Linked DNA regions of Homo sapiens: all the other regions are linked to region 1. Evidence: fine-mapped expression QTL. A gene starts in region 1. Each other region holds a variant in brackets. All regions are shown on one strand. Distances are between the middles of the regions.

Region 1 (5,142 bases):
TTGGAACGCTAAGCTTGTGGGAGTTATTTATATCCTACTGCTCAAGGTCATCGCAAAGGTCTGATTTTTCACACAAAAAAATTTGCAACCTCTGGCATAAATGGGTTAAGTAACTGCCTTAAATTATCTTTGCCTCATTTTTTTTCTTTACTAAATAATATATATAGTAGTAGAATTAACAGCATGATCTCTTAGAGGTCTTATGAGGATTAAATAATAAAATATATGTAGAATATTTTGAGCTATTATCCTCATTATTACAACCTACTACAGTTTTTGTTTTTTTAATTCATAGCATTTATCCAGTTGCCTGTAATTTTATGCCTTTTTCTTATTTATTTATACTTTGAGCTTATTAGTAAAAACAAAACAAAACAAAACAAAACCTTTCTGCTTATATCTTTAACCAAAAAAAAAAAATTATTTAACAAAACCGAGACTCAGTGATTCAATGCAGCAGACATTTTCAAGGGTGGTTGCCCAGCCCCAACCATTTGCTGAAACAAAGAGGATCCTGATTCCACAGCTAAATCATTCCTGCCAGACCCCCCCTGGCCATGAATGATTTGTCCACTCAGGGGATGATAACCAATCATAGTTGAGTCGATCAGATTTTTTCTCCCAGCACCTACACTGTTTTTGGCAGTACTCTGAGAGGGTTCTCAAACCTGTTATCTCTTTCCTGCTTTTCCAGAAGCTGGATACCATGCAATGGCTCCCCTAGCATCCCTCTGATAAATTTACCTTTTGTCTCTAAGCTGGCCAGAGTTAGTTTCCATTACTTAGGCAGTTGAGAGGGGTCACAGCTGAGTTCTGGAACACACCTCTATCTCTTTGTGTTAGAGCTCCTTAATCCACATCTATTGAGAGACTACTGTTTGCAAGGCATGACCAGATATGTGCTGTGAGGATCAGCAAGGTTTTGACAGGAAAAGAGGGGGTGTGGCATTAAGAGAATAGAGAACAGCAGAAAAACACAGGGCAGATATAGGGAACTGAAAGCAATACAGTTTTACTGCAGAATAAGGCATATGAAGGCACATGGTTGATCCTCAATAAATGTTTCATTAATTGATATTAAATTAGATGTAAAACTAGATAGACAAGTTGAGGACAAATAATACATGGCTTTGAATGCCAACTAAGGGATTCAGAGTTTACTTGCTTCAGAATTGGGACCACTGAAGATTTCTGAGCAGAAGAGCCCTATAATATGAATTGTGCTTTCTGAACACTAATATCTCACGCAGTCCTCATGAGTGATCAGCTTTTTAATGGGCTGAAATTTGTGTTTTATTTACGGCCAGATGCGGTGGCTCATGCCTGTAATCCCAACACTTTGGGAGGCTGAAGCCAGGAGTTTTAGACCAGCCTGGCCAACATGGAGAATCCCTGTCTTTTATTAAAAACACAAGAATTAGCCGGTCATGGTGTCACATTCCTGTAATCCTAGCTACTTGGGAGGCTGGGGTGCGAGAACTTCTTGAACCTGGGAAGCAGAGGTTGCAGTGAGTGAGCCGAGATAGCACCACTGCACTCCGGCCTGGGTGACAGAGCAAGACTCTGTCTCAAAGGGAAAAAAAAAAAAGTTATTTATGTTTCTAATGAGGGAAATTTAGCAGCATATTTTACAGAAAATAGGTTTCATTTCAATGACAAATGATACTTCTTTATGGGTCTCATTAGAGAACTGAAAATACTTGCAAATACAGTATATTTGATAATGTCATTTTCTGCTCTAGATCTAATCAAAGTTGTCAGCAAAATTAATTTAAGGTCCACAATTCTCTACTCATGTTAACCTGAGGGAGAGGTTATTGTGCTATTAGGACTACGTTATAACTGAGAAACTGTTAAATGCCTTCTCATACTCCTCTAATGGAGACAACCCAAGTTTCAGAGAAACAGTTTATAAAGCACTCTATAACATAGTGAAGAGCATTATGAAAATATCTGGCATATGCAATCTTGTTAGCATGAAATGGGTAATATTAAACACAGTCCCTAATATCACTGTGGCACCCCAATTTAGAAGAGCTATACTGTACCAACTTTGCTTTCCACCCACAGAAAGGACCAAGTATGAAGTTATATAAACACCATTCTCCCTTAATTGAGGAACTGGTAATCGAAATACAAACTGATCTGCTTATTCACTATTTACATGGCCATTCAAAGTAATAAAATTTTAAAAGTAAATGTTATGTTGAAAAAAGTCAAGTGAAAAGCAAGATGTTATCCAAACAAATTATCTGTCTTTAAACAAAGTAAGTTTTCCTTTCCTTTCAAATAAGAAAAAAAGAGAACCAAAAAGTTCACCAATAGAAGTGTAATTCACATGAATCGCAGTGATGGTATACCATGGAATAGGAAAAAATAAGTTACAAGTCATAGTTCAAATTTTTTTCATACCCCTGCCTGTACTGTAACTTGTGAACTCTAGAACTTTAACAGACTTTCTGAAAGCTGAAAAGAATCCAGTAACTCGTACAGAGAACCTCATGAACAGTTCCTGAGGTACCACAAGCACCTGTTTCCAGCGTGTTCCAGCCATGGCTTGTAAGTGGACCTGCAAATGCTGCAATGTCCAGGGTACCAAAATAGGGGAAAGGCGCCCAGGCACAGCTCAAGGGAGCTAGCTTACCCCAAGGCTGTGTTTGACAGGGATTTGGGAACTGGAGAGGAAGGAGGAGGAGGCAGAGTACAGCCTCTGTCCTACGGCCCCACACCCACCGGCAGACATCCATCCTCCCGCCTGCGCCCCGCCGCGAGGGGGTACTCACAGCTCTAGTCTCATACAGAACCAGCTTCTGGACCGAGCTGATGATGGGGGCGGCGGCCGTGGGCATGGCGGCGGCAAATGGGGGCCCCACAACAGGGCACGAGCCTCCGGACCGCCCCAGGAGACTCGGCGAGAAAACCCCTCAGGCCCTGGACATCAAGTCCAGCCAGGAACAACACCCATTAGGCACTAAACCTATAGATGATCAGGTGTTTCCGGATCCCTGCGCCCCGCCTCCAGGCAAGCCCCGCCCCTCACGTCGGGAGCGGGGCTGGAGGACGTATCATAGAGAGGTCGGGTAGAGGCTCCCGGGACCTGCGTGCTGCCGAGAGAGGAAGCGAAGGGCACCATCTTTGGTAAGGATTGGAGGAAAACATGGGCGGAGAAAAAGTCGACGGATTAATTGAGTCTATTTATCTCCTCCCTCTCTTTGGAAAAAAGCGGAAGGTTTGGGATTGGGTAGCTTCTTTTGAAAAGGGTTCTCCGAGTTGCAGGATAGATCCTTGTGTTTTCCCTGCCTGCTGCGGCCCATTTTCCTGGAAGCCGGCCCTCTGACGGTCCTTCACTGAGTGTCAGTTTTCCCCTCACCTCTAATCCATGTTGTACCTACGCTGTGTGGCCCAAGAAATTGTTTTAAAATCACCTAAAGCTGGAAAGTGTGGCTTTGCCACACGTTTGTGCGTGAGGCTAGCCACTTGAAGTTGTCGACAGAGACTAGCGCAGTGTGGCGGAGCCGCGCTTGAAATGAGGTTTCTTCATTTCATGTGTGCGACATAAATGGGCATGCGCGTACCCTCTCTTCCATAGTTGTGAAAATGAGTGTATTATAATTATAAATGCCAAATTAGGTACAAAAGTGACTATTTCGAATTGGAAAAGAAATGACAAAGAACTACAGCCCCGCCTCTCGAGGCCCCGCCCCACCAAGCAGCAGGTGCGTGGCGGCCAGAGGTCTCCCCGGCAACCGCCCGACAGCCCCGCGGAGTCCCTGGAGGCAGTTGCTTCCCTGAGGAGGGTCCGGCTGCGGCCAGGTAAGGAGCCTTCCGGCGGCCCGCTGGGTCGTGGTCCGCCCTGGAGGCATCTTGGTATCTGTTGCACGGAACCCCGCCTCCTGCGGGGACCCCCAGACCAGCTTCTTTTCTTGCAAAACGGTCTCTTTGTAAATCCACTTTTTAAAACCACGTCTCCTTTCAACGACTGAAGTATTTATTCCACAAATATTTACTGAACACCTACTGCAAGAGTATAAGATGTAGGGGAGAGGCAGCTATCCTATCTTAGGCGGCAATTCTAGGTTTCCCAGGAAACCTCTAAACCTCAGAAACCTCTGCTAGAGGGCTTCTCAACTGCTAAGTGTAAGGAAACTTTAAAAAAAAATTATAGAATTATAGCATACCCAGATAACATTCATGTAATACCAAAGATCATATTGTAAATTAAAATTTGAGAAATTACAAAAATTGTAAAGAAATACTTAAGTCTATGTTATTTTGCGCTTCTTTCCCCCTGTAGTTTGGTACTCCTTTTATTAAGAACTAGAAGGATGGCCGTGTCCGTTCTGGCATTTTGGACTTGGATCTTTTAACTGGGAAAAATAGTTAGCTGTGTTCTGTTTCATAATGAAACCAACTCTTCTGAATATTAGTTAAATGTTTGCACAGTGTTTTTATCTAGGATAGCAACTCTTAAAATACCTGAAGGATTCTAGTTTTCAATTATTATAGTTTAGCACTTCCATTTTAACTTTATCTTAGTTTATTTCACCCGGAATCAGATCCTAAGACAAAACTTTGAAGGCAGGTTGTTTATATGAGACGTAATCCCAGGAAACAGCAGCAGGGAGGGGAAGAAAACTAATAAAGGAAATATTACCAGAGAAATTTCTCTGTGGGCTGAATTCACTAGGGAATACTGGGAGGCATGTCTCAGTTATCCCCTCTTGAGGGGCAAGGAAGCTGGAGTATTTATTCGCCAACTTCCATCAGTTATTGGATGAAGCCTGATAGGGCAGAACATTGATGCCCTAGAACTTCCAGTCTACCCTGTGTTCAGGGAGAGTAGGTTCTGGCAGCCAGAGAAAGCCCTTAGGCAAAAAGTCGCACATGCTAACATTTTGGAAGTTGGGCTGGTCGTGCATAGAAAAGGTGTATGTCAAGTGGATATGGGGGAGGCACTAATAGCAGCTGCTACATTCCACCCTTTGCAGCACTCGTATCCATTCTTCCTCCACATCAAGTTCACACCATGCCACCCTAATTCTTTAAGGTAGTGGCTAGTCTCAATTTTTAAAAGAAAAGGACTTACAAAAAAAAAGATTAATGGGACAAGCTGCAGAATCCACTACTGCAATTAATCTGAGG
Region 2 (5,153 bases), 210 kb before region 1:
AATGGAACTGAAGTCGTTGCTGACTACTGGTATGCCTTCCAGCTGTGAAATTGCTGCAGAGGCCACGGCAGCTTAACTGCATTGATGGCCACTGGGGTTATTGCACCCTGCACTCCATGTTCTTGCAGTGCCTCTGTGTTTGTGCTGACAGGCCAGTCCAACCAGGAGCTGTAACTATGCACCACACCACTCCACTTTCTAAGTTGTTCGGGTTTTCCATCTCTAACACTCTCTCCTTAGATAACTGGGACGATGGGTGCCATGAAATAACAAATTTTCTTTTGAAATTCTTTCTTTCTTGTTACCTAGCAAAGGGCAAACCCACCCACACTTGTGGGTTTAGGCTGTCAGAAGCCTGGGAATGATTCATATCCACTGTAAAATGAAGTGTTTTTCATGATATGAAATACTATTGTTCAACAAGAAACCTCTAGATTGTTTATCCCCTTTTGCTTTATTGTGTTTTTTTAATACAAAAGTTATCCATGCTTGTTATTATAAATCCTACTGGAGAGAAGCTAATGTTTGATCAGTTGCATCCCCACCTCTAGCCCTACCTCATCCCCTTGCAGTAAAGTGTGTCCCAGCTGTGTGCACCCTTCTATGCCTTTCTTCAACACACATTCCAACATGCACACACAGGTGCACAAAGCTCAAATTTTGACCTCTTCTAGGAGCCTCTCCAACCTTTCCAGTTTGAGATCAGGTTTTCAACACTTCCATCATCTTAGGCATTTCCATCGCGTTCAGCATTCCTAGAATAGCCTTTACTCAATCTGCTGGGGAAACAATGAAACATGGTGGAAGAGTGACAGTCCCTGGGGAAAGCGCTCTCTGCTTCCTGAAAGGCCAGTGGTCAAATAAATCTGAGTCACCGAACTCCTCTCTGAATCTGAACTTGTTGAAGGTGTGAGGATTGGCACATGAGATACCTGTGTAGACCCTGGTGCAAAGAGCAGATTGTAGAGGCTTCTAACCAAGCAGGAGAAGCCGGATAAAGGATGGTTGTTGCAGTTTGATAGCTGATTCTGGAATATTCGGTGACAGTGAGTGGATAATTCCTGACTCTTACTTCTCCTCCTGGGCCTCCTGCTGAGGACAGTGTTAGGGCTCATTTGCACTTCCACTAGAGGCGAGCCCTTGCTGGGAGAAGAGGTGAGAGCAGTCGATTTTGCCACTCATTAGCAACTCTGGACAGACAGTGGTGGGAAGATTGAACCTATTGGCAAAATGAGAGTTTGCTTCTCTGGGGGCACAGTTACCCATTCTAGTCCTTTCACCATCAGCGTATCACCCAGAGTTGATTTTCTGCTGGTCTCACAGAGCAATGAGCAAGACAATATTTTTCAAAGGATTAGTTGCTTTATATAATAACTCAGTGAATAGTCAATGTTGTGACCTTCCAGTGGTGAGACTGAAGAAGGAAAAATGTCTCCTGGAAAACAGATGCCACAACCACCTTCGTGGTCTTACTGTTCTGGCCTAAAGGTCAAAGATTAAGTTTGTGAAGGACAAAATGTGTGTGTGTGTGTGTGCGCGCAATCTGGAATGCTGAAGTAAGTTTGCCAATGGATGCAAAACTGGTTAATATTCTATAAGACAACGCATGTTTGTTGGCATATTTCTACTGGGCAGAAAACTATCATATCTCTACTGGACACCGGCATTTACGTTGCTATGGATAAGAATAATTTCCATTACTGTTTTCTTCAACTTCTATAGTGTAAAATTGCTGGGTCATTAGAGAGACAGAGGGTCTACTAGACAATGCCCAGCACATCATTGAAAGGACACACAATGATGTTAATCTAAAGACAAAAAGATCTATAAACAAATCTTCAACTCCAATTTAGTAAAGGTGTTGTTGGTAGAGGTATGAATGTAGCAATTCTGGAATTATGTTGTGCTTTATTAGTGCAGCACTAAGCAAAAAAGTAAATAATTTGACTGTGGGCCAGGAGTGGCAGAGGGATTCAGGATTCTCACCATGAAAGAAAGAAGATACAAGCATAAACTAGGAAAAAGCAAAGAAGAACCATGTGGTATTGAATTGGGATTAGTGGTTACTACTGGCTCTGTCCATTGAAATGGCAGTGACATCCCAGTAGCAATCAGCAGAGATCTTGGTTTCTAAATACTACTGCTGCCAAAAGAAGCCAGGACTTTTTGGAGAAATGGCTGATTCCAGGGTGGGGCAGGGCAAGTATAAGAACATTTGGTTGTTCTTAAAAGTAAGAAAGTGCTCATAAAATGATGGGAGGATGTTGCAAGAATATAAAAAGCAACTTGAAGGGCTTCCCACTGGCCAAATCTGTAATAATTTGATTATCAAAACAAATAAGAATAGTGATGAATTCTAACCCTTGGAAAAATAATATTTCATTGATTCATATTATACTAAATAAATAAATGAGAAAGAGAGGAAGGCTCTTCTTTAAAATAGAAAGCCAACTAATAAAAGTAGAATAGATAATGGAGTTAGATAATCAACATTTTGCAACATTGTAGTAGTAATTGATTCACACAGGAATTATTAATGGATGCTAAGACAGTGGAAGTCTCAAAGTATTTCTTTAGAGATGACTTATTAATTTCTTTCTTTTTTTTTTTTGAGACAGAGTCTTGCTCT[G/C]TTGCCCAAGCTGGAGTGCAGTAGTGCAGTCTCTGCTCACTTCAATCTGCACCTCCTGAGTTCAAGCGCTCTTCCTGCCTCAGTCCCAAGTAGCTGGGATTACAGGCATGTGCCACCACGCCTGGCTAATTTTTGCATTTTTAGTAGAGATGGGGTTTCACCATGTTAGCCGGGCTGGTCTTGAACTCCTCACCTCAGGTGATCCACCCACCTCAGTCTCCCAAAGTGCTGGGATTACAGATGTGAGCCACCATGCCCAGCCATGACTTATTAATTTCAAAGAGAAAAATAGTAACTTCATATTAGAATAACTTGGCTGACACTACTCTAACTAATTGATCAACATTAACATCACTAACGATGATGTGATATGCTGAGGACAAAACATGACTTATGTTATAAACCGCATAACCTGCATATAACCATCTAGAAACACCAGACACATTTAAATTGTGGAAATTCTACCAAATGCTTGGCTTGTGTTCTTTAAGATTGTCAATGTTATGAAAGACAAAGACAAAATAATTCAGTAAATTTTCCAGATTAAATGAGGTAAGAGAATCAGGACAACTAAGTGTAATGCAAAATCCTGAATTAGATCTTCAATTTGGGGAAAAGTTGCCATAAAGGGCATTATTGGGGCAATTGGTGAAAGCTGACTATAAACTGTACCTTATCTTAAATAATAATATTGCATTAATGTTAAAGTTCCTAAAATTGATCATTGTACTATGGTTATGAAGAGAATGTCCTTGTTCTAAGGAGATCTATGCTGAAACATTTAAGGATAAAGGGGCATAATATATGCAATTTTCATTCATATGGCTCAGTAATACTAATTATAATAATTATTAGATATAGATAGAGAAAGCTGTGTCAAAATGTTAATTAGTAAATCTAAGTCAAGAGTATATGGGAGATTACTATATACCTTTTGCAACTTTTCTGTAAGTTTAAAATATTTTTCAAAATAAAAAAGGATTTTTTTTAAGTATTGTATTCTGCTTTTCTAATCTCTCTATTGGAGAAATGAGGATTAGATACTTCAATCAGAATTGAAGATGTGGTCTGGGCACAGTAATGCCTGTAATCCCAGCATGTTGAGAGGCTGAGGTGGGAAGATGGCTTAAGCCCAGGTGTTCAAGACCAGCCTGGGCAACATGGTGAAACACTGTCTCTACAAAAAATACAAAAATTAGCCAGGCACGGTCCACAACTGCAACCCCGGCTACTTGTGAAGCTAAGATGGGAGGATTGATTGAGCCCAGGAGATTGAGAGATTGAGTCTGCAGTGAGCCCTGATTATGCCACTGCACTCCAGCCTGGGTGATAGAGCAAAACCCTGTCAAAAAAAAAAAAAAAAAAAGAATTGAAGTTGTGTGGAATCCCCAGAGAGGTCGGGTTGTGTGGGCAATATGCACCTTGCTAGGAAAGAGGGTCATCAGGGCACTAAAAATCCTTTTCTCAAGGTAATGTCCTGGGATGCCCAGTCCCCCAGCCGTGCTGGGTTGAGTTATCTAGGTGAACTGCAGGATTTTGGAGAAAGAAAAGGTATTTTCCATGTAATTACTGTAACAGAAATGCGGGAGTCACCCTCGGTGCCAATCTCTCATTCAACTCGTCACCAAATCTTATGTATTGATTCCACCTTTTAGCTATAATCCAAATGTGTCCCCTCCCCTCTATGTCCTCTGCCAAGGTCCTCACTTCCTTGCCCACATTTCTGTGTCACCTCATCACCTGTCACCTGGTCTTCAGTGGCATCCCTCTGACCTATTCTTCCCACCCAGCCAGGTGCACAGTGAGTGAAGCTTGGTGCCTTGGTAGGGTGGCAGAGAGTGCCACCATGCCTGCTCCTACCTCTGCTGGAAATATCTCCCACCACCTCCTACCATTTCCTGCTGCCCTCTCTCCAACCCTCAATCCACACAGCCTTTGCTCCAACAATTTTGCACTATTTTTGAAGCCACCTTTGCAAAAATTATATCAGTGAAAAAATTATGACAGTGATCTGAGCTAACCCACCCCCATCTTGCCTTTCCCGGAAGGCCCCAGATGGGAAAGAACAATGAACAACTGTTCTAAGAGACGGCTGATCACAAACTACCCAAGGGTGTGACTACCTCAGTGGGCACAATGAATGGCTTCCTTCCTCAGGCACAAGAACCCTGCATGGAATCCCCTCCAGCACAACCCTAGAAAACTTCCCTCCAGCCCCACCTCTTTGCAGACAGCCCCTTTTCTGCTGTGCTGCCTGTTGTAACCTTTGAATGTATTTTCATACTTTCTCTAATAAATCTGCCTTTCTTTGCCTAGACTGCCACCCCCTCTTCCTGGTTCATGTTGGGAACAATTTGGAAAATAAAAGAATTAAGAAATTAAAGAAGTCACAGATAAAGGGAAAAATATGAATGGCTGAGTGAGGCTAAGCTGGAGGGTGTGGTTCAGGTCTGTCAGCCAGCAAGCTGGGGACAGCTCTGGGCAGAGCAAGCTACCTCCACCTGCCCAACTCACCCTGCAAGAG
Region 3 (5,000 bases), 130 kb before region 1:
GTGCTACAATTAAATGTGGGTCTTTTTAATGCTCCCAGCAAACAGCCAAGATAGCTTACTGTACTTTGCTTTTATCCACAACAATGACACATCCTGAGATGACTGGAGACTACATTCAATTGCATTAAAATAACACAGAACTAGGGGTGACCAGGAGAGCAGGTTGTCTGCTCATGAGGCCCTTCAAAGGATCAGCAATAAGGAATTTCAGCTCCTCAGAGTAGGCTGGGTCTTTAAAGACTTTGATAGGAAGAGAGTCAGTGACATTTTGGTTATAGAGAGAGCATGAGGACAGCAAAATTCTTACTGTACGTGTTTCTCAAACACTGATCTGTCTTCAACCTGTCAGGGAGCCATGTCAATGACAGACCAACAAGAAAGACACTGCAGTCTGGCAAAGGTTGAGGATTTTATCGCCAAGCCTAGGCAACATCAACAGCACAAAAAAATTATTTATAGATCAAAGTATACAATGACATTAATAGATATTAAAGAAATGTATGCATTTGTTATGTCTAAGGCTGCTAAACTCTATCTTTTGTAGACTCATTTGTCATCAGATTCACTAGATTAAAAAATAATGTGTATGCATGTGTGTAGATGAGATATGGTGTATATATATATACACACACACTATATATATATAGTTATGCTTTATACCTACTTATATATGTATATGTATTCTTTAAAAACAATGCTGAAGAAAGCGATATATATATATATATATATATATATATATATATATATATACATACACACACACACATATATATACACTTCAACCATCCCCACCAAGTAATGTGCTTTAAGTGAAGCCATGTGAACTTTTATAATGGTCATTCTATTGTGCAGATATTAGAACAAAAATATAGTTAATGAGCATATGGGGTTTGGAGCCAATAAATCTAGATAACATACTGTAACCCCTATTATTTCCTAGGTAGAGCTGGAACATCTTGTCCTTAAAATGTGACTGTTTTTTTACACTGTTATATAGCAAAGATCAATGAAATACACAATAGAGATTTAGAGGCTGCTACAAGGTTGGTAAAGTTTTCAGTTGAAATACCATTATGTACACATTAATTAAATATAAAAACTAACAATATTTACCCAATATTTATCATAGAAAAACTACTGTGTTTCAGATTTACCAGTGCTTTTCACTTTTTTATTGCAAAATAAAATCGATACAGAAAATCACACAAAACAAACACATAATTATTATAAAGTGAACATCACCCAGGTAAACAAACAGAAATTCTGACAACCAACCCAAAAGCCCCTTCCAGGTGCCCCAACCCCATCACAATCCCCTACCCTGACTCATAAGTAACCTTATCCTGACTTCTATAGTAATCACTTGTTTGCACTTTTAAAAAAAGACACTGTCGTTCAAATGTGCACCCCTAGATTCTATAGTCCTGCTCATTTCAAAAGTGTGATATGCTTTTTAATCTACAGATGCTCTCATCTTTCTTTTTCTTTCTTTTTTTAAGACACAGGGTCTTCCTGTATCTCCTAGGCTGGAATACAATGGAGCGATCATGGCTCACTGCAACCTCGAACTCCTGGGCTCAGGCGATCCTCCTGCCTTGCCCTCCCAAAGTGCTGGGATTACAGGCTCGAGCCACTGAACCCGGCCTCTCACTTTTCTTTTTCTTACAATTTATCTGTTGAAGAATCTGGGTTGTAGAGTTTCCCTCAGTTTGGATTTAGCTGCTTGCATAGTCAAGATGCAGTTCAAAGTGTTCCTCTGCCCTTTATATGCGCTGTGGGTCAGCAGTTGGACCCAGAGGGTGGTGAGATGCTGTTTCGATTGCTTTGGTAACACTATGGCTGGTGGTGTATTGCTTCATCAGGAGGGTCACAGTCTCTGGTTGCTTATCTTTTTTATGTTAACAGTCACTGAGGCCAATGCCTAGATCCAGTAACCCATTGGGACTTGTCAAATTATCACTTGACACTTCATCTTCAGTCCTTTTTAATGTCTTTCTTCATTTCTTTTTAAAGCTTTGTATTTTAGTTCATTTTGAAATAGTATGTTTCTGTTTTAACCTCTTTTATTAACTTGTCTTTCTGGCATGATTTCATTGTCTGTAGGAATGTTATTTTGCTCTGTTCTTTATAATTCTATGATGAGATTGGCCCTTGATACTTTTCTGTTGCTTATTGTGCAAAATTAGTTTTGCAGAGCTGTAAGAAGATGTTGCTCAGGAAAGATTTACTTAACTTCACAGAACTCTCTTTGGTTGTTTCAGTGAAGTGTTGAAAACTGCCACAGCTTGCTCTCTGAGGTTTCCTCTCTGCTCCCCTTCCTCAATGTTGTCTGGGCTTTCTCCTTCCTTCATCTCCATTGTCCTGCTCAATTTTAATGCCACTATCAGCAATTTCTCCTGCCATGTCCAGGTAGGGAGCTTTGGCCGTTTGGGTTCAAGACTGTATGTGGCCCAGACGGCCTCAGCCCCTTTCAGAACTCACCAAAAATCCCTTGCACTCCCCTGGTATTGAATTGGGTGAACCCCTTCTGTTTCAGCTTCAATGATTTCTGGCGACTACCTGTGAGCTATTTTGGGGTTCTCCTATTCTCAGGCCTCTCAGATGCCCCACTGTTTCCTCCTGCTTCTTCCTCTTGCACACACACTGCTATCATGCAGGTCTTTATGGCTGTGGGGGGTTTACTTCCACATCCTCTTTAGATTTGGGGGTGAGTGAGGATACTGTATCGCACAGTTTTGAGGTAAGTGTTGTCTGTAGGTGCCTGGTTTTGCTAACCAGTTGTTCTGTTTTTTTGTGTGAGGATTCAGAGAGATTTTAAAATGATGCTGCTGCTGCTGCTGCCTTCTTCCAGAACCGACCAGGCTCTATTTTTAAAAGTGTATTTTTCACCCATCCCTCAAACTGAGCCCTACATTTGCCATACTGTCAGCTGCAGGGCTCCATTTTCCTTGTTCTGGAGATCGGCACTGCTACACCACCCCTCCTTACCCAGGGCTGCTCTCAGAGAAGCTCTTTCCCAGCTCAACTCCCACGTCTACTCTTGCCGGAC[C/G]TGTTCCCTTCAGAGACAACGCATACTGCAGATGTTCAGATGGACTGGCTATCTGAGTGATGGGAGACTTGGGGGGTGCGGGTGAGGTGGTAACACTCTTAATCTCATGGTTCATCTGCATGTGGCTAATCAGGTATTGCCTACATAGCAGTAGAGGTACAAGAAGAGTTAGAGAAATGTTTTAAATGACTACTTATCAGATATACTTTTATTGCAGCTAATAGGAGATGGTATACCATCTATTCTCATGTGAGCTGTGGTCTCAGAAGCATTTGACAGTCGCTAGATTGAAGAAGCAGGTTTACTATTAACAAGCTGCTGGAATGACCTCCCCAGTCCACTCAGGGCTGGTTTTTTTCTCTGCCTGGAGGACAGAGTTGGACCAGTACCTGCCTGGGAGCCCTGCCTGATGCATAGGTAGGGCATGCCCCTCTCCTCTGTTCCCATAGCCTTGTGCACACCTATGTCTGTGCCCCCATCTGTCTCCCTCATGTGAGTGGGAGCAACTTTTGCTGAGGCTGTACAGACTTTTTGCTCTTTTTCCTTGGCATATGGTAGGGACTCAATGGCTTTTTAAGAAAGATTTAGTAGAAATCAATGAAGTAGGGGATACTAAGAATTCCTACCTCACACAGCTGTTGAGTGGAGTAAATGAGTTTAAGTTTATATGTATAGCATAGTGCCTGAGTGCTCAGTAAAGGTGAACTATTGTTAACAATTACATGGCCATGGTGAGTCATGCCTATAATCCCAGCACTTTAAGAGGCTGAGGCAGGCGGATCACCTGAGGTCAGGAGTTCGAGATCAGCCTGGCCAATATGGTGAAACCCCGTTTCTACTAAAAATACACAAAATAGCAGCTCGTGGTGGCGGGCACCTGTAATCCCAGCTACTTCAGAGGCTGAGGCAGGAGAATTGTGTGAACCTGGGAGGCGGAGGTTGCAGTGAGCCGAGATCAGGCCATTGCATTCCAGTCTGGACAACAGAGTAAGACTCTGTCTCAAAACAAAAACAAAAACAAAATTACAGATACATAATTCCTATCTGCAATCCTGAAATCCCAAAAGCTATAATAACCAAAAGTTACTTTCTGGCAAAATGTGACCCAACTGAAACTGATTTGGGCCTTGGGCTTCATGGACAAAGGAGCCCTGGATGGCTACCCAAGGACCTCACTCTACTATCTGAGCAAGGTGCCTTTACCATTGTTGCCTAGTGGGATGAGGTCACTACTAAGGACAAATAGCAGTTGTATGTTTCCCATACTCCTCCTTTCTGAATGAGAGTTTTAATTTTCCTTTGCCACCACTGTATATCAGGAGCAGAGGCAGTCTTTATTTATAGGTCACTAGGTGATAAAAAGCTCTATCTGGACCTAATGAAGAGAGCTACACATACCCAGAGATCCTGGACTTTGAATGGGATGCAGAAATTTACAGGGAATGGAGTGGGTCCTACTTACAGCAAGAAGAGTATACACGGATAACTGGGAAGCTAAAGGGCAGACAGTGACACATGACATAGATGAGGCTCCTCAGCATCCACTGCATTCCCCGTCTAGTGTGCAGCAGCGGAAAAGCAAAAACTAATATCCCAGGATCCCTTGCAATTCAGGTTCAGAATGCAATTTAGGTTCTACCTGCGACTTGTACTCAAGTGCTTTGATTTGAAACTGGGTCATATGGAAAGCAGCAGGATGCAGGGTATGTGTTTTGCAGATTAGTGGCACAGGTGATGTGCTCTTGAGTTGGGCACTGTGGTAATGGCTTTTTGAATACAGTATTCCCCCTTATCCTTCAGGGATATGTTCCAAGACCCCCAATGGACGCTGGAAACTGCAGATAGCACCAACCCTCATATATCCTGTTTTCCTGTACATACATACCTATGACATGGTAATTTATAAATTAGGCACAGTAAGAGATTAACAGCCTACCTAATAATATAATAG
Region 4 (5,000 bases), 91 kb before region 1:
CTATCTATTAAAGCAGCAACATAATACTGAACAGCCATTCATTTGTTTCTAATAAAATACTATGTGCAAAGGATTTAATGCTTCAAGTTCATTAAGGTATAATGCCAAAATATGTTAGTGTAAAAACTAAAACACAAACAGTTACCTACCTTCATCATAGGGCAATGGTAAATGCTTTATCACCTCTGGTGTCCACCAGTAAGTATAACTATAAAATAAAAATTAAAAAAAAAGATGAACCAAATGTAAATGTTGGTTTTCTAAAATTTACTGGATAAAATAATTTATATGGTCTATAGTAACATGTTCCTACTTCAAAGTTAATATTTTTCTTTTTAAAACATGTTTGCAAAGCTTTTGACACAGTAGGTCTTCAACATGGTAATTCCCTTCCCAACTGCTTTCTTCCTTCAACTATGTTGCAGATCTACAAAAATGCCATGAATACACCTGAGAGTCAAGATGCTCTGATATTATTTACTTTTAGCTAAAAAGGATTAGAAGGTAATAAGCTGACTCTATGAACTGCTGTTAACTTCTCCCAGGGACTGTGCCTACAGTGACTTACTCTGCCACCAGGTGAGTAGTGGGACCTTGACCCAAGTCCTACAACCAGGATTCCCTTGCGTGTAGTTATCTGATAGTTAGAATCTACTCTGCTGTATAGTACACACCTGTGTGTATAGTTAAAACAGTTAAGCAAAATCATTAAGGAACGAATTAGACAGTCCTAACGAACAAGTTCCCTTAGAAAGCAGTATAGACCGTTATTCTTTAACTGTAAATATGTGCTACTTGATTACAGAAGCTAGTCAGAGTAAGAGTAAAGAATGTCACCTGTCTGGATTTCTGCTAGAAGGCTCGTCTGCTATAAGCAAAGAATCTGAAAGAATCCTAAGTGGCCTTCTCTCTGAACACCTAATTTAATTCTCAATCAAATTCTAATGAAATGAATATTTAGAGGAAAAGGATATATGTCAAAGTTCATGAGAGCTAGGAAGGAGAAGAATTTTTTAAAAATCAGATTTCTAAAGATTAAAAAAAGAGCCTATAGCCAAAAATTGCTAAAAAGAGATTTTAATATAAATGAAAGGCTTTCTAAAAATATAAAGCTGAAATTACAATCTTGAATAATCCTGATTATGAAGCAACAGGAAAGTATCCAAATGAAACTGGCAACACAGGGAACTCTCCTAGGGATGGCAAGCAGAATACACAACCACTAATGATGAAAAAAGGAATATGAAGCCTAATGAATTGTGTGGGGCAAATCACTGTTCTAACAGGAAAGGTTCCTAAAGTTTTGTTTTAGACTGAAGTTATGCTTTACAGCAGTGCTATTCAAAATTCAATGTGCATGTAAATCACTTTGGGATCTTGTTAAAAGGCAGATGATTCAGTAGGTGGGGCCTGAGATTCTGCCTCTATGACAAACTCCTGAGCAAAACCAAAGGGGCAGATCCTCCAACCCCTTTTCAATAACAAGGCTTTGAATATGAGAAGAACAGAGCAAGGATAAGGCTGCTGCTTGTGAAGAATTCATTCAGTTATTCCACATTTATTAAGCACCTGCTATGTGTCAGACACTGCTCTATGTGTTGAAAGTGCCAAGCTGAAAGCAATGACAGAGAAAGTAGAGCTACTTAATTCCAGTACTGTTTCTATCCTCCCTAGCCATAACAAGTTTCGCACCTGAAAGAAAAAACACAAGAGGGAACTGTGTACAACCCAGAAGACAGAAGGAGGCGCTAGAGCGTCTCTACAAGAGGCTAGTGTCCCGGTGTAGCTGAGATCTATAATCTTTAAGGAACAGTGAAACATGGAGCTGATACTGGAAATGGGCCAATGCAGTCTTTAATTTTTACATTTAGCAGAATTTATTTATTTATTTACTTTTTTCAACTTTCATTAAGTTCAGGGGTACATGTGCGGAACGTGCAGGTTTGTTACATAGGTAAATGTGTGCCATAGTGGTTTGCTGCACAGATCATCCCATCACCTAGGTATTAAGCCCAGCATCCATTAGCTATTCATACTGATGCTCTCCCTTCCACCCTCACCACTGCAGGCCCTGGTGTGTGTTGTTCTCTCCCATCATGTGTCCATGTGTTCTCATCATTCAGCTCCCACTTTTAAGTGAGAACACGCAGTGTTTAGTTTTCTGTTCCTGCATTAGTTTGCTGAGGATAACAGTAGTCTTGATGCTCAGCAGTGAGAGGGTGACAGATTCCAAAAACCAGACATCAACAA[G/A]TGATGTAAGTGATGTTGATCCCAGCAACATAACAGAATCAAATATGAGATCGAGATGTGTTGTAAGTGACCTAAAAAGATAGCCAATGCATTCTCTGAATTCACATCTATTCACAAAAACAAGCCACACCAAGCTAATATCATTTCCTTTCCTAATAGGAAAATCAGACTGTCAGATCAGGGGAATGAAAAAGACATGGACTAATTGTTTAAGAGGGGTGTATGCATGTGTGTATGCATGCATCTGAGTAAATCTAATTCTGTGATGATCTAACACTGGCAGACGAGTAAAGTAGAGAAGTTATCAGTATATGAGAAATTCCCTAAAGAATGTTGCTTACAATCAGCTTGCTTAGGAAGAAGAAGTAGACATTACAAAAAATGTGTTTTAACTCAGAATTCTTGTGGTGAGCAAAAATGAAAAGATAATCATGTATTCATGATTTAAGACCAGGCCATAAACTTTTTAAAAATATTACTAAATTGTATTTCCCTTACAATATGTAGCAATTTAACAACACTTTTAAAAGATTCCAAGTCTTTTGGGTGAGTCTCAGAAGCAAAGAAATATCTGCCTTGGGGAAGATAAGCTAAAATGGATGGAGGATAAGAGCATCTAAGACGACTAAGCCCAAGATAGGGGAATCTTTACCACCTCTACTACCAGGTACATTTATCCAGAGGAAGAACAATGCACTGGGTCAGAAACCTGCTTTGGGACCAGGGATCAGAAAACAGGAGATTGCAAGTTAGTGTCACTCCCTTCTTTGCATACAAAAGAGCTAGTAAGTCAGATTCTCTTTTCTTTTTCAGTTCCTAGTATTATTAAGAGTTCTCGGTTCCATAGGAAGGTTAGGGAAAATTTTTACACTGTCTAATTTTCCTAGCTAACTTGGGAGCCCCCTGAAACATTCATGAATGTCAGCAGAGCAATCAATATTTGTGAACAAGACAGAGAAATATGGGCAGGGCAATAGTGTAGTTAAGTGAAATTACAGCTGTTTAAATGATTACAATCAAAGGCACTAAACAATGTTATGTGGAAGGAGTTGTCTGTGGGTAGAAATCAATGGGTTCTGCCATTTACCCTACTGTACTCAACATTTTTCATCAAGTACTTGAATTAGGATCAAGATGGTCAACTGATTAAATCTGAAGAAACTATAAAGCTAGAAGTATTCATTAAAGGTACACATTTCAATACTTTTTTTGGAAGTAGGCAAAGCATATACGAACATGACAAGAATGGTACAGATGTGGCAGAGTGGCAGCGGCACATGTTAAAAAGACTTAGGAGTTCTAACAGACAGGAAGCTTGGAGAATGCACACTGTGATGGCAATGCTGAGGATGGCTGGTGTGACCTTATGCTTATCAATGAAAACACAGCATCCAGGACAAGGGGAGTGATGGTCCCAGTGGTCTCAGAACAGCTAGCACAAATCAGACCAAATGCTGACCATTATTGGACCCAGATCTGGGGGCCACAGTTTAAGAAGAACATTGACCTCAACTGGAATATACACAGAGGAGAGTGTTGTTCCGAATGCTGGAGGGCCTTGAAACCACAGCATATGAGGAACAGCTGAAGAAACTGGGGCTATTTAACCAGTAGAAGAAGAGATTTTGAAAGTGTATGAACTCAACTTCAAATATTTAAAAGATTATCAAGTGGATGAGGAAATCTTGTTTTTAAGGTCTTTAACTAGGATTAATAGGTAAGATTACAGAGAAGCAGATCTCAGCATGACATGAGGAAGAATTGTGTAAGTGAACTGTTCCAAAACAACTGCCTCTTCAACAGTTGACAAACAAGAACTTGTCAAGCATAGGCCAGATTACCTCTCTCTCTCCCTAGGGAAACAGAAAGGGAACTCACATATCAGACAGGGGGCAGGCCAAGAAATCTCCCAACTCTAGGAGTCAATGAAATAATTAATGCTTAATACCTAAAAACATCTTGGTGACATTCTAAACACCAGTTCATTAGATGGAATCTTAGATGATTGTATGCCATATTAATCAAATTCAGAACAAAGCTTCAATTAGTGGTTTTAGGCAGATCAGTCAATGTGAGATTTTGTGTCATCGAAGTACTTATCTCAAGAGGACCTTGTTCCAATGACTCTAGGTAGAGTTAAGTTTATTCCCTCTTCCCTTATTGTGCAAGAAAAGTATTATTTCATGGCATAGATATGCCACGCCATTATCTATACCATTCCTGTATCATTGATAAACACAGTATAAGATACAGCATGCCACAAATTTCAAAACACTCATGAATAAATAATAAAGTCTTTATTAATATTACATTAATAAGTCACATTATCTAAGTTTCCAGACTTTATGGGCATCCCGTATGATCTTTAATAAATGTTAAAAACTAGGGAATGTTATCTCCTTAAAGAATAGTAACAGGGCAGGTGCAGTGGCTCACACCTGTAATCCCGGCAATTTGGGAGCCAAAATGGGCAGACTGCTTGAGCCCAGGAGTTGGAGGCCAGCCTGGGCAACATGACAAAACCCAGTCTCTACCAAAAATACAAAAATTAGCTGGGTGTGGTGGTGTCCACCTGTGGTCCTAGCTACTTGGAAGGCTAAGGTGAAAAGATGGCTTGAGCCCTGGGAGGCAGAGGCTGCAGTGAGCCGAGATCACGCCACTGCACTCCAGCCTAGGTGACAGAGCCAGACTCTGACTCAAAAACAAAGACAGTAACAATACTAACACCTATTGTATTTGCTAGGTGCTAA
Region 5 (5,000 bases), 69 kb before region 1:
ATATCCTTTCACCATAATAAATTATAGCCAGAATACAATAGGCGGAGTCCTTTCAGTTCTCCTAGTGAATCACTGAAATCTGGGACTAGTCTTGGGGGACCCCTGTCATGGGTACCCTAAAATTCAAATAAACAAGTGCAAACAATGCAAACTATAACAAAGGGATTACTTCCAAAGACATATACACTAGTAGTTAGTTCTTTTTTATTGTCTTATGATTGTAGTTAACTACATTAACTGAAAATAAAATGCCATAAATACATAGTATTGGTTTCTTAAAAGATAAAGCATAAATCCTTGATCTGAAGAAGCTCCCAAAATAGTAATAAAAGATTTGTGAGCGAATAACTATAATACAATACTATTTTTATAAAAATGTTAGTATGTAATCTATAAGAAAAAAATGTCTGTTTCTATTCAATACTGAAAAATAGTTCACTGTTGAAAATTTTACTTACAGAAATATTTTATGTAACATTTGTTCTATGAAGCAAGAGATGCAGATCCCATGGCTTACATCTCAAGGTATGTAGGTAACCACCAAAGGAATTCCCATGCCCCAGTGAACATTCAGCACTCAGTCATGTGAGCAGTGTGCCTCCCCCCAGGACTAAATTCATCCAATTTCCAAGTAGTACAAACTGCTGTATTTAGAATACCCATAAGAGCAAAAATCATCATTTATTATAAGTTTTAAAATACCATACATACTTTTCATCTGGCCGCAAAATGCTACAGTAAGAATCAGGGCGGTTTACAAAGAAACCTGTTTTCTTCACCACACTTTCTGCAATCACATTTAGTCGATCAAGAACATTACACAGCTTGCTGAGGAGAGAAGGAAGAATGAGAAAAGTGAGAAGCCAAGTTTTAATATATATTTATCCTTATATCTAAAGCCAGTAAAGTCTATAGCAATGATACTTAAAGATGTAATTTTTAAAATCTCTTGGCTGGTACTTGATAGAAACATGTAACAATGTCTAGAATATAATGTGTACTCAGTAACCAGCAACATTTGATGTGAAAGAGACACAAAAGACCTGCAACTTAATATCAAATATTGGTGATCCTTAATCTTGGCATATAACATCCCTGCCTGAGCTTTCTCCAAAGCCTTTCACTCCTCAAGAGTTGTCAAGTCAATATACATTCATAAAACGGCTGTGAAAAGAGCACCACGCACAGTGCAGGTGGCAGAGCAGAAAAAACTGCAAAATAATATGAATGGCAGCTGGGTGCAGTGGCTCACGCCTGTAATCCCAGCACTTTGGGAGGCCAATGCGGGCGGATCACTTAAGGTCAGGAGTTCGAGACCAGACTGGCCAACATGGTGAAACCCCATCTCCACTAAAAATATAAAAAATTAGCCGGGCGTGGTGGAGGGTGCCTGTAGTCCCAGCTACTTGGATGGCTAAGGCAGGAGAATGGCGTGAACCCGGGAGGTGGAGTTTGCAGTGAGCCGAGATTGCGCCACTGCACTCCAGCCTGGGCAACAGAGTGAGGCTCCATCTCAAAAAACAAAAACAGAAACAAAAACAACAACAACAACAACAAAAAATTAGCCAGGCACGGTGGTGCATGACTGCAGTCCCAGCTACTCAGGAGGCTGAGACAGGAGAATCGCTTGAACCCGGGCGGCAGAGTCTGCAATAAGCTGAGATCGTACCACTGCACTCAAGCCTGGGCAACAGAGCAAGACTATGTTTGAAAAATGATAATTAAAAAAATAATATGAATGGCAATAACTTGTAAACAAACTTATACTCTGAGAAAGTGTGTGTGTATCTAACTGTATAAAATGACTCAGAAAAAAGTACAATAAGTACAAAACGATATAGTAACATCTTAAAAAATAAGACCTTAAGTAAACCTACAGCTTGTATGATTCTGTAGTAAGTGAACAAAAAGACAATGCAAGATTTAACAAAAGTAAGTTCCTTAGAAGAGATGAGTTTTGAATCAGATCTTGAAAGACAAAAGAGAGGTGGGAAAGCATCCCAGGGAGGGTGAAGAAGAGGAATGGAGGCTTAGGATGGGACTTTGGCTGCCACATTTGTGGCAGAGCATGAAAATTCAGTTTTCTGGAAGAGAACAGCCCTTGGGATAAATAAAAAGTGGTCACATTCTGAAGCCAACCAGATGACGAGCCTTTGACATTACACTAAGGAGTTTGGATCTACTATATACAGTCAGGAATTATCACAGGTTCATCCACGAGTGACATCTGAGAAAGTGTTTAAATAGTGAGACAGAATGATATAGAAAAAAGCAAAACTAATGCCTTTAAGGAACAGTTGTAGAGATGTTCTGAAATGACTAAATATTTCAAACAATTTGCAAATGGTATATATGATAGGCAAAAAGAAAAAAAAATGTTTGGTTAGTTTCTTGATGCACTCAAAACAGCCCCTCAACAGGTTCATGAAGGAAATTAACAGGGTAACATTTACTTTACCACAGAGGTCAGCTTCCTGTTATTTCTCATCACAAGAAAAGGAAACGATCATAGCCAGACAGATGAGTATCATTCACCTTTTGGTATACTTGGCCATGTCCCAGGGAATATAAACAATAGTGTGCTCAGGAGGCAAAAATTGGTTGAGATAGGTCACAGCAGCAACAAGTTCTTCACTCAGAATTCTTTCATGCTTTCTTTTCTCTCGTTCCTTTATCAAAAATTAAACATT[T/C]TCAGTGTTCTAATTTCCTTAAATCAGAGGAACAGGCTCAACATGTTTACTTTTAAGCTAAGCTAAGACAAAAAAATCCAAGTCTTAAATATACTAAAATGAAACCTAGCTACAATAATCAGAAATAATAAAAACACAAAGAAATAAATGCTCCATTGTATTAAAGTGAACAGCTAATGAACTTTGAAGATTCTAGGAGATCAGGTTTCTTCCTGGTACTCTCCCTGCACCCTGAGAAACCCAGCTTACCCAACGTGGGCCATGGCCCACACACTCCACACCTGACTCTGACAGAGGAGATCCCTCCCAAGGACCAGAAGAAGGGAGCCCCCAACTTTAACCAGCTGGAGGCCAGAAAGAAATCAACTAGTCTGGATGAACAATTCCCAAACTAGCACAGCAGAAAGCAGCTTCTCAGCCTTCACAGGACTTCATAAATTAGACTTGCAAATACTCTGTGAGATAACCAAAACAGGCATTTCTTTTTCTTTTTACACTGTGGTTGAATGAATTGAGGTGGAGAGGCATTCATGGAACTAAACCTTGCCTTCTGCCTCCTTGCCTGGGGCATCTCTTTAGTTAGACACTGCACTGCCTCTCATTCAAGAGAAGCTAGTACTTTACTGTACAGTTCTGTGGTTGGAATGGTGACTCTGCCACTCACTAGCCATGTGACCTTGGGCAATGTTCTCAATTTCCCTAGGCCTCCATTTTTTCATCTATAAAATAGGGTAAAAACAGTATCTTCCTTACAACATCAATGTGAGACTTAAATGAGACAGAGCATGGTGAGTTTTTTTTCTTTTTTTTTCTTAATACTTTAAGTTATGGGATACATGTGCAGAACGTGCAAGTTTGTTACATAGGTATACACATGCCATGGTGGTTTCCTGCATCCATCAGCCCAATATCTACATTAGGTAGTTCCATCACTCTCAACGACATGAACTCATCCTTTTTTATGGCTGCATAGTATTCCATGGTATATATGTACCACATTTTCTTTATCCAGTCCATCATTGATGGGCCGTTGGGTTGGTTTCAAGTCTTTGCTATTGTGAATAGTGCTGCAATAAACATGTGTGCATGTGTCTTTATAGTAGCATGATTTATAATCCTTTGAGTATATACCCAGTAATGGGATTGCTGGGTCAAATGGCATTTCTGGTTCTAGATCCTTGAGGAATCACCACACTGTCTTCCACAATGGTTGAACTAATTTACACTCCCAACAGTGTAAAAGCGTTCCTACTTCTCCAAGTCCTCTCCAGCATCTGTTGTTTCCTGACTTAAATAATCGCCATTCTAACTGGCGTGAGATGGTATCTCATTGTGGTTTTGATTTGCATTTTTCTAATGACCAGTGATGATGAGCCTTTTTTCATATGTTTGTTGGCCACATATAAATGTGTCCTTTTGAGAAGTGTCTGTTCATATCCTTCGCCTACTTTTTGATGGGGTATTTTCTTGTAAGTTTGTTTAAGTTCCTTGTAGATTCTGGATAGTAGCCCTTTGTGAGATGGAGAGATTGCAACAATTTTCTCCCATTCTGTAGGCTGCCTGTTCACTCTGATGATAGTTTCTTTTACTGTGCAGAAGCTCTTTAGTTTAATCAGATCCTATTTGTCAATTTTGGCTTTTGTTGCCATTGCTTTTGGTGTTTTAGTCATGAAGTCTTTGCCTATGCCTATGTCCTGAATAGTATTGCCTAGGTTTTCTTCTAGGGCTTTTTTGGTTTTAGGTCTTACATTTAAGTGTTTAATCCATCTGGAGTTAATTTTTATATAAGGTGCAAGGAAAGGATCCAGTTTCTGTTTTCTGCATATGGCTAGCCAGTTTTCCCAGCACCATTTATTAAATAAGGAATCCTCTCCCCATTACTTGCTTTTGTCAAGTTTGTCAAAGATCAGATGGTTGTAGATGTGTGGTGTCATTTCTGAGGCCTCTGTTCTGTTCCATTGGTCTATGTATGTGTTTTGGTACCAGTACCATGCTGTTTTGGTTACTGTAGCCTTGTAGTATAGTCTGAAGTCAGGTAGCATGATGCCTACAGCTTTGTTCTTTTTGCTTAGGATTGTCTTGGCTATACGGGCTCTTTTTTGGTTCCATATGAAATTTAAAGTTTTTTCTAATTCTGTGAAGAAAGTCAATGGTAGCTTGATGGGGATAGCACTGAATCTATAAATTACTTTGGGCAGTATGGCCATTTTCACAATATTGATTCTTCCTATCAATGAGCATGGAATGTTTTTCCATCTGTTTGTGCCCTCTCTTATTTCACTGGGCAGTGGTTTGTAGTTCTCCTTGAAG
Region 6 (5,153 bases), 150 kb before region 1:
ATGTATTTCTGTTTCTCTGGAGAATACTGACTAATACAATAATGCTTACCATTATGAAGCTTAAGTGCCCTTTTCTTGCCTGTCTTTTTCACCAGGCTGTAAACTCTTTGAAAAAATGAGCTGTCTTGCTTGCCAGTGTGTTTTCAATCTCTAGCAAAGAGCCTAGTAATAGTAGATATTCAGGTCTAATCCTGTAATTGTCGTACTTTGCCATGTATCAGGGCTGCCTTTTCTTTTTGGTAGCTGGCAGACACATGTGGGGAGACCCAGTCCCTGCCTAACTCTCCAGCCTCTGTAGGCTTGCATCTGGCCTAGCACATAGAAAATACACACACACACACACACACACACACACACACACACACACACACACGAAGTCTATTGAATGAATTAGCTGAAAGCATACTTAAGCCAAGGTGTAAATGGATGCATTCATAATAGTTAAGCAGCCGTCTTCTCACAGACTTGGGGGGCATCAGTTGGAGGAGAATGGGGACCTCTTGAGATGGGAAGAGTGACATAGAAGCCTGGTGGTTGTGTGGTGGAGGATGGGAAGGGTCAGAGCTCAGAGGATGGGGTTGTGGGACCAGCAAGTCAAAGCAAGAGGGAGAGAAGAAATCCAGACAGAAAGCTTTGGGCTCTTAAAGCGCTGGCAGTGTTCATCTCTGGAAGTGTCGAGATTTGTAGCTCACTCCTAAGGCTGAAGAGGGCTCTAGGTTTGTCTAATTCTCAGGCAAGTTGCTTGTTAGTGATGCTTCCACCAGCCAAATATGGGCACCGGGGCTCCGGATTCCTTTTGTTTTCTTTGCTTTGTGGTCTCTGCGATAGAGGGTCAGCCCAGCAATGCCCACCACATAACAGCTGGACAGAGCTCCCCATTCTAAGTGTGCTCCTGAAAATACTACTTTTTTTTTTTTTTGGAGATGGAGTCTTGCTCTGTCACCAGGCTGGAATGCAGTGGTGCAATCTCAGCTCACTGCAACCTCTGACTCCCTGGTTCAAGTGATTCTCCTGCCTCAGCCTCCCAAGTAGCTGGGATTACAGGCGCATGCCACCATGTCTAGCTAATTTTTGTATTTTTAGTAGAGATGGGGTTTCACCATGTTGGTCAGGCTGGTCTCGAACTCCTAACCTCGTGAGCTACCCACCTTGGCCTCCCAAAGTACTGAGATTACAGGTGTGAGCCACCGTGCCTAGCCCAATGCTACTTTTTAAAAGAGGAAGTCCATCCTACTGTATATTCCTCCACAGGAAATATTTGCCCCATTATAGGTTTGTTTATATTTTTATTTTCAATAGACAAATAATAATTATATATATTTATGGGATACAATGTAATGATTTCATAAATGTTTACAACATACTATTTCATAAACATATTTGTCAAAAAAAAGAAGAGCTAAAATTGCTGGCTGCAGGAGTTCCAACCAGAGATCTTTTTCATGTTCAAGAATGCACACCTGTGTTTTTCAAATAGGTAGGTACTTTTTTCAAAGTTAGTTAAAAAGTAACCTACCTATTTGAAATAATTTATAATATTTAAGTTATTTAATATTTATAAATTATTTTTAAAATGAAAATAAATATTTATTAAATTATTGAATTAATATTAATATTTAGTAATTCCAAAATAGTATGCATAATTATATGTAAATTCACTGCTTCATGGGTTTCATTAAAAACTCATTACCAATCACCTCTCATCAGCCTCCCTTCCCCCATGTCTTTTCACCCCAGCAGTGGACAAAAGGGGGCAGAATTTGCTTCTTCCCCATCTAGACTTGCCTTTACCAGGTGGTCCACCTGCAAGGCACTGATTCCAGATAACAAGTCCTGGAGGTGACTAGACCCCATGCCTCGGACCCCTTTGCTGTTCCTGATTCATATAGAACCCTCCCTGGCTACCCAGACTTGGCTGGAGACTCTCACCTCTGTATTTAAAGAAGGCCCTTCACAGGCCAGACGCAGTGGCTCACGCCTGTAATCTCAGCACTTTGGGAGGCCAAGGCAGGCAGATCACTTGAGGTCAGGAGTTTGAGACCAGCCTGGCCAACATAGTGAAACCCCATCTCTACTAAAAATACAAAAAAATTAGCTGGGCGTGGTGGCACGCACCTGTAATCCCAGCTACTGAGGTGGCTGAAGAGGGAGAATCTCTAGAACCCGGGAGGCAAAGGTAGTAGTAAGCTGAGATCGTGCCACTGCACTCCAGCCTGGGGGACAGAGCAAGATCCTATCTCAAAAAACAAAAACAACAACAAAAAACTGAGTTGACATGTATTAAATGGGATAGTCACAGATCCAGAGCCATGTACAACCCCGATTCTACTCCATGTAGGGGCCTTGAGGAGT[G/A]TATCTGGCAGACAGGGCTGCTCTGGCCCCCATAACAATGAGCAGCCATCAGACAGTGCCAGCCACCATTTCCCTGCTCCTTCTAGTGCAGAGCTGGGCCTGAAACTGAGTTTTGAGGTTTGCAGCTCAGTGTGCCTGGGACCCAGTAAGTACTCAATAAATGTTTGTTGTCCAGCTCAATCAGATTGCAGTTGCTAAAAGGAGAGCCTAACATATGTAATTTTTAAATGACCTTAGATTTTCACATGGGGTTTTTGTGGGCACTAGATCAGCTTATCAGCAACTGTACCAAGAGGATTTTCAAAAACAGAAATGAAATTATCTCTAAGAGTTAGGTGAAGCATACCCTGGGGTGGCACTCCTGCTCTCCTCACTGGTGTATGTGACTCAGCTTAGCTCCACATTGTAAGAATCATCACTGATCCTATTGGGTCACTCCAATTATTCAGTTACTGGGTTGCTCTGCCCCTGCTCCCAAACAAAGAAGTCCTTTTTTTTTTCTTAAATTCACGTGCACATGGCATCCCCAGGAGTTGCAATCCTGACATGTTTGCTGAGGTGAGGGGAGCATGCCTTCCATTAACCTCTTCCTAACTTCTCAGCAGAGCATCTTTTGGTGGAGAGGGCCAAGTGGTGGGCTGTGTCCTAGAGTCTGGAAAACATCTTGTCTTATCCTATCTGCATGGTTTCAGCTGAGGGAAAGTCCAGGGTCATTTTGCTCTGGGCTGCCGAGTCCAGCCACCAGGATGATGATCTCCTGTGGTCTGGAAGCTCCTGCATCAGGGGCACAGGGTCTGGAGGCTCTGGTCAAAGATTCAGGGCACCATGGGCAGGGCTGGTAGCATCCACTGTGCAGCCAGGTTATGGAGAGGCAGGGATAGTGCTGACCCACTGGCCAGTGAGAACAGCAACAGACTGTCAGGCTTCTAATCTCAGGCATTTGCCCTTAGTTCTATGTTACTCCTTGGCTTCAATGGCATAACCAGCCCTGTCACTGTGCCAGCCTTTGGAGATGTGCGTGTGTAACCCAAATACAACTGGGCCACCTCTAGAACCAGTCTCTGTATGGTGTCACATTAAAAAACCCAGCCATCCAGACCCCTCCCTCCAAACACAGCTCAGCCATGCTGAGCTGTAAACCTCAAAACTCAATTTCAGGCCCAGCTCTGCACTAGAAGGAGCAGGGAAATGGTGGCTGGCACTGTCTGACGGCTGCTCATTGCTATGGGGGCCAGAGCAGCCCTGTCTGCCAGATATACTCCTCAAGGCCCCTACATGGAGCAGAATCGGGGCTGTACATGGCCCTGGATCTGTGGCTATCCCATTTAATACATGTCAGCTCAGTTAGTTAAATTAATATAGTCAAATAAATATATTTATGTAAACAAACACAAATCCATACTCAAAAGCTAGTCAAATCCCATTTCGGACTTGGTTCTTGACCATCCTTTTCAGACAGCTCTCACTTTCATCTCACATCTCCCTCTCTCTTTACCACCACCCCCCACGGGACTCCTCTCGCCAGGATGCTCTCCCTGGCTTCTTCCCCACCAGGCCTCACTGGTCATGCACTCCATGCCCCCAACATGTGATCTTCCCATTGCATGCATCTTTCTTTCTCTAATCATTTTCCTAGTGAGAATCTGCCACCCTGCAATTATGGTAAATAAAAATTCTCCACTTTGCTATATGCAGATGCATCAAGCCACCCAACCATGTCCTCCTCCCAAAGTCAGGGTGTCTCCCATTTAGGCTGGCCTTCTCAGCCCATAAGATTGTTGGAAATCCCAGCCTTAGCAGCTTTGTGCCCTTCTTTTAGCAAATATTTTCCAGTCCAGCAAAGGGGTTGGGCCTCCTTGCACAGTTGAAAGAACCATTCTAGGCCCTGCTTCCTCGGAGATATGTCCCAGGAGTGAGGTGCATTGCAATACATGGGTACTGCTCATCACCAGGAGTTTACTGACACCTAGGGCCATGTATGAGGGTCACGGGGGCCTCTCTGAAAAGTGCCCCTCAGCCATCTTGCTTGTTAGTTCTGTGGTCAAAACTCTTCTTGACATCAGTAGCCTTCCTCGGCCTCTCACCACCTCCCCACTATGCTTCTTCTTGTCTTTGGCTCTAAACCAGAGTAGAGCTAGGTGCTGAGATATGGAAGACTGTCTAATTTTTGTAGACTTCTCAGACTTTCAGCAAAGTACACCCCAGCTGGAGAATCTCAAATGGCCTTTAGTTTTTAGGAATACTAGCATATAAAAGTGCTTGCTATTATGGGCCAGGAATAATTCTAAACTCCTTACATAAAATGTCTCATTTAATCTTCATAAAATCCAAATGGGATTCATACTATTCTAAAAGTCATATCCCAGGCCATTTAATAGAAATAGAAAATGCGGCCGACAGAGGTTGAATATTGCTTGAAGTCCCTTGTTCACCAAGTGCTGGACCAGGGACTTGAACCCACGTTCTCTCTCAATCCCTGCACTTTAACCAATTATTAGACAGGGGTCTGAGTTGACACTGACAGTTAGGGATGCAAAATGTCATCATGGCCCCACTGCTAGAGGGAGGGCTCACAGGGGCCAGGTAATAAATGGAGTCCAGGCCACAGTCCAGCACACCATGGGCCCCTTGGGCCTGTGTGGTCATTTTCTCCAGACTTGAGTGTATAGTTGGAACTGATACACCGCAGTTAAGAGTAACTTCCACATTAGATCCTTGGACTGCAGTTCAAGACCTCTCAGAGTGGGGAAGGTCAACTAGAAACTTTTGAAACTGCTCCCCTTTCCTAGGGCCAGGATTGT

Direction of the effects. Alleles are on the strand shown, and positions count from the first base shown. SD is a standard deviation of normalised expression in the study named. Not every link is listed here.
As copies of A replace G in region 6, the expression in prefrontal cortex of the gene that starts at base 2,989 in region 1 goes down (small effect, 0.16 SD a copy in CommonMind).

Evidence for each region. PIP is the estimated chance that this variant, and not a neighbour inherited with it, causes the effect.
Region 2: its variant is the best candidate, but not a certain one, in a credible set for the expression of FIG4 in blood mononuclear cells (TOPMed, PIP 0.84).
Region 3: its variant is the best candidate, but not a certain one, in a credible set for the expression of FIG4 in esophagus muscle (GTEx, PIP 0.58).
Region 4: its variant is the best candidate, but not a certain one, in a credible set for the expression of FIG4 in whole blood (TOPMed, PIP 0.52).
Region 5: its variant is the best candidate, but not a certain one, in a credible set for the expression of FIG4 in whole blood (TOPMed, PIP 0.84).
Region 6: its variant is the best candidate, but not a certain one, in a credible set for the expression of FIG4 in prefrontal cortex (CommonMind, PIP 0.63).

The regions. Positions count from the first base shown.
Region 1 is chr6:109,689,143-109,694,284 of GRCh38, reverse strand. FIG4 (FIG4 phosphoinositide 5-phosphatase) reads right to left here and starts at 2,989. Exons shown (of 23, transcript NM_014845.6): 1 at 2,784-2,989. The coding sequence starts at 2,849. It overlaps AK9 (adenylate kinase 9), which reads left to right and starts at 3,083. Exons shown (of 41, transcript NM_001145128.3): 1 at 3,083-3,138. RefSeq lists an enhancer at 3,036-3,505.
Region 2 is chr6:109,897,340-109,902,492 of GRCh38, reverse strand. No RefSeq gene overlaps it. Among named protein-coding and RNA genes, the nearest start is that of GPR6, 78 kb to the left of the region's middle. The variant G/C (reference allele first, on the strand shown) is at 2,630.
Region 3 is chr6:109,818,538-109,823,537 of GRCh38, reverse strand. The region is part of intron 22 of FIG4 (FIG4 phosphoinositide 5-phosphatase); the gene reads right to left. Among named protein-coding and RNA genes, the nearest start is that of FIG4, 130 kb to the right of the region's middle. The variant C/G (reference allele first, on the strand shown) is at 3,050.
Region 4 is chr6:109,780,178-109,785,177 of GRCh38, reverse strand. FIG4 (FIG4 phosphoinositide 5-phosphatase) reads right to left here. Exons shown (of 23, transcript NM_014845.6): 17 at 150-208. Among named protein-coding and RNA genes, the nearest start is that of FIG4, 91 kb to the right of the region's middle. The variant G/A (reference allele first, on the strand shown) is at 2,251.
Region 5 is chr6:109,757,919-109,762,918 of GRCh38, reverse strand. It overlaps FIG4 (FIG4 phosphoinositide 5-phosphatase), which reads right to left. Exons shown (of 23, transcript NM_014845.6): 11 at 2,536-2,669; 12 at 712-828. Among named protein-coding and RNA genes, the nearest start is that of FIG4, 69 kb to the right of the region's middle. The variant T/C (reference allele first, on the strand shown) is at 2,691.
Region 6 is chr6:109,836,670-109,841,822 of GRCh38, reverse strand. No RefSeq gene overlaps it. Among named protein-coding and RNA genes, the nearest start is that of GPR6, 140 kb to the left of the region's middle. The variant G/A (reference allele first, on the strand shown) is at 2,353.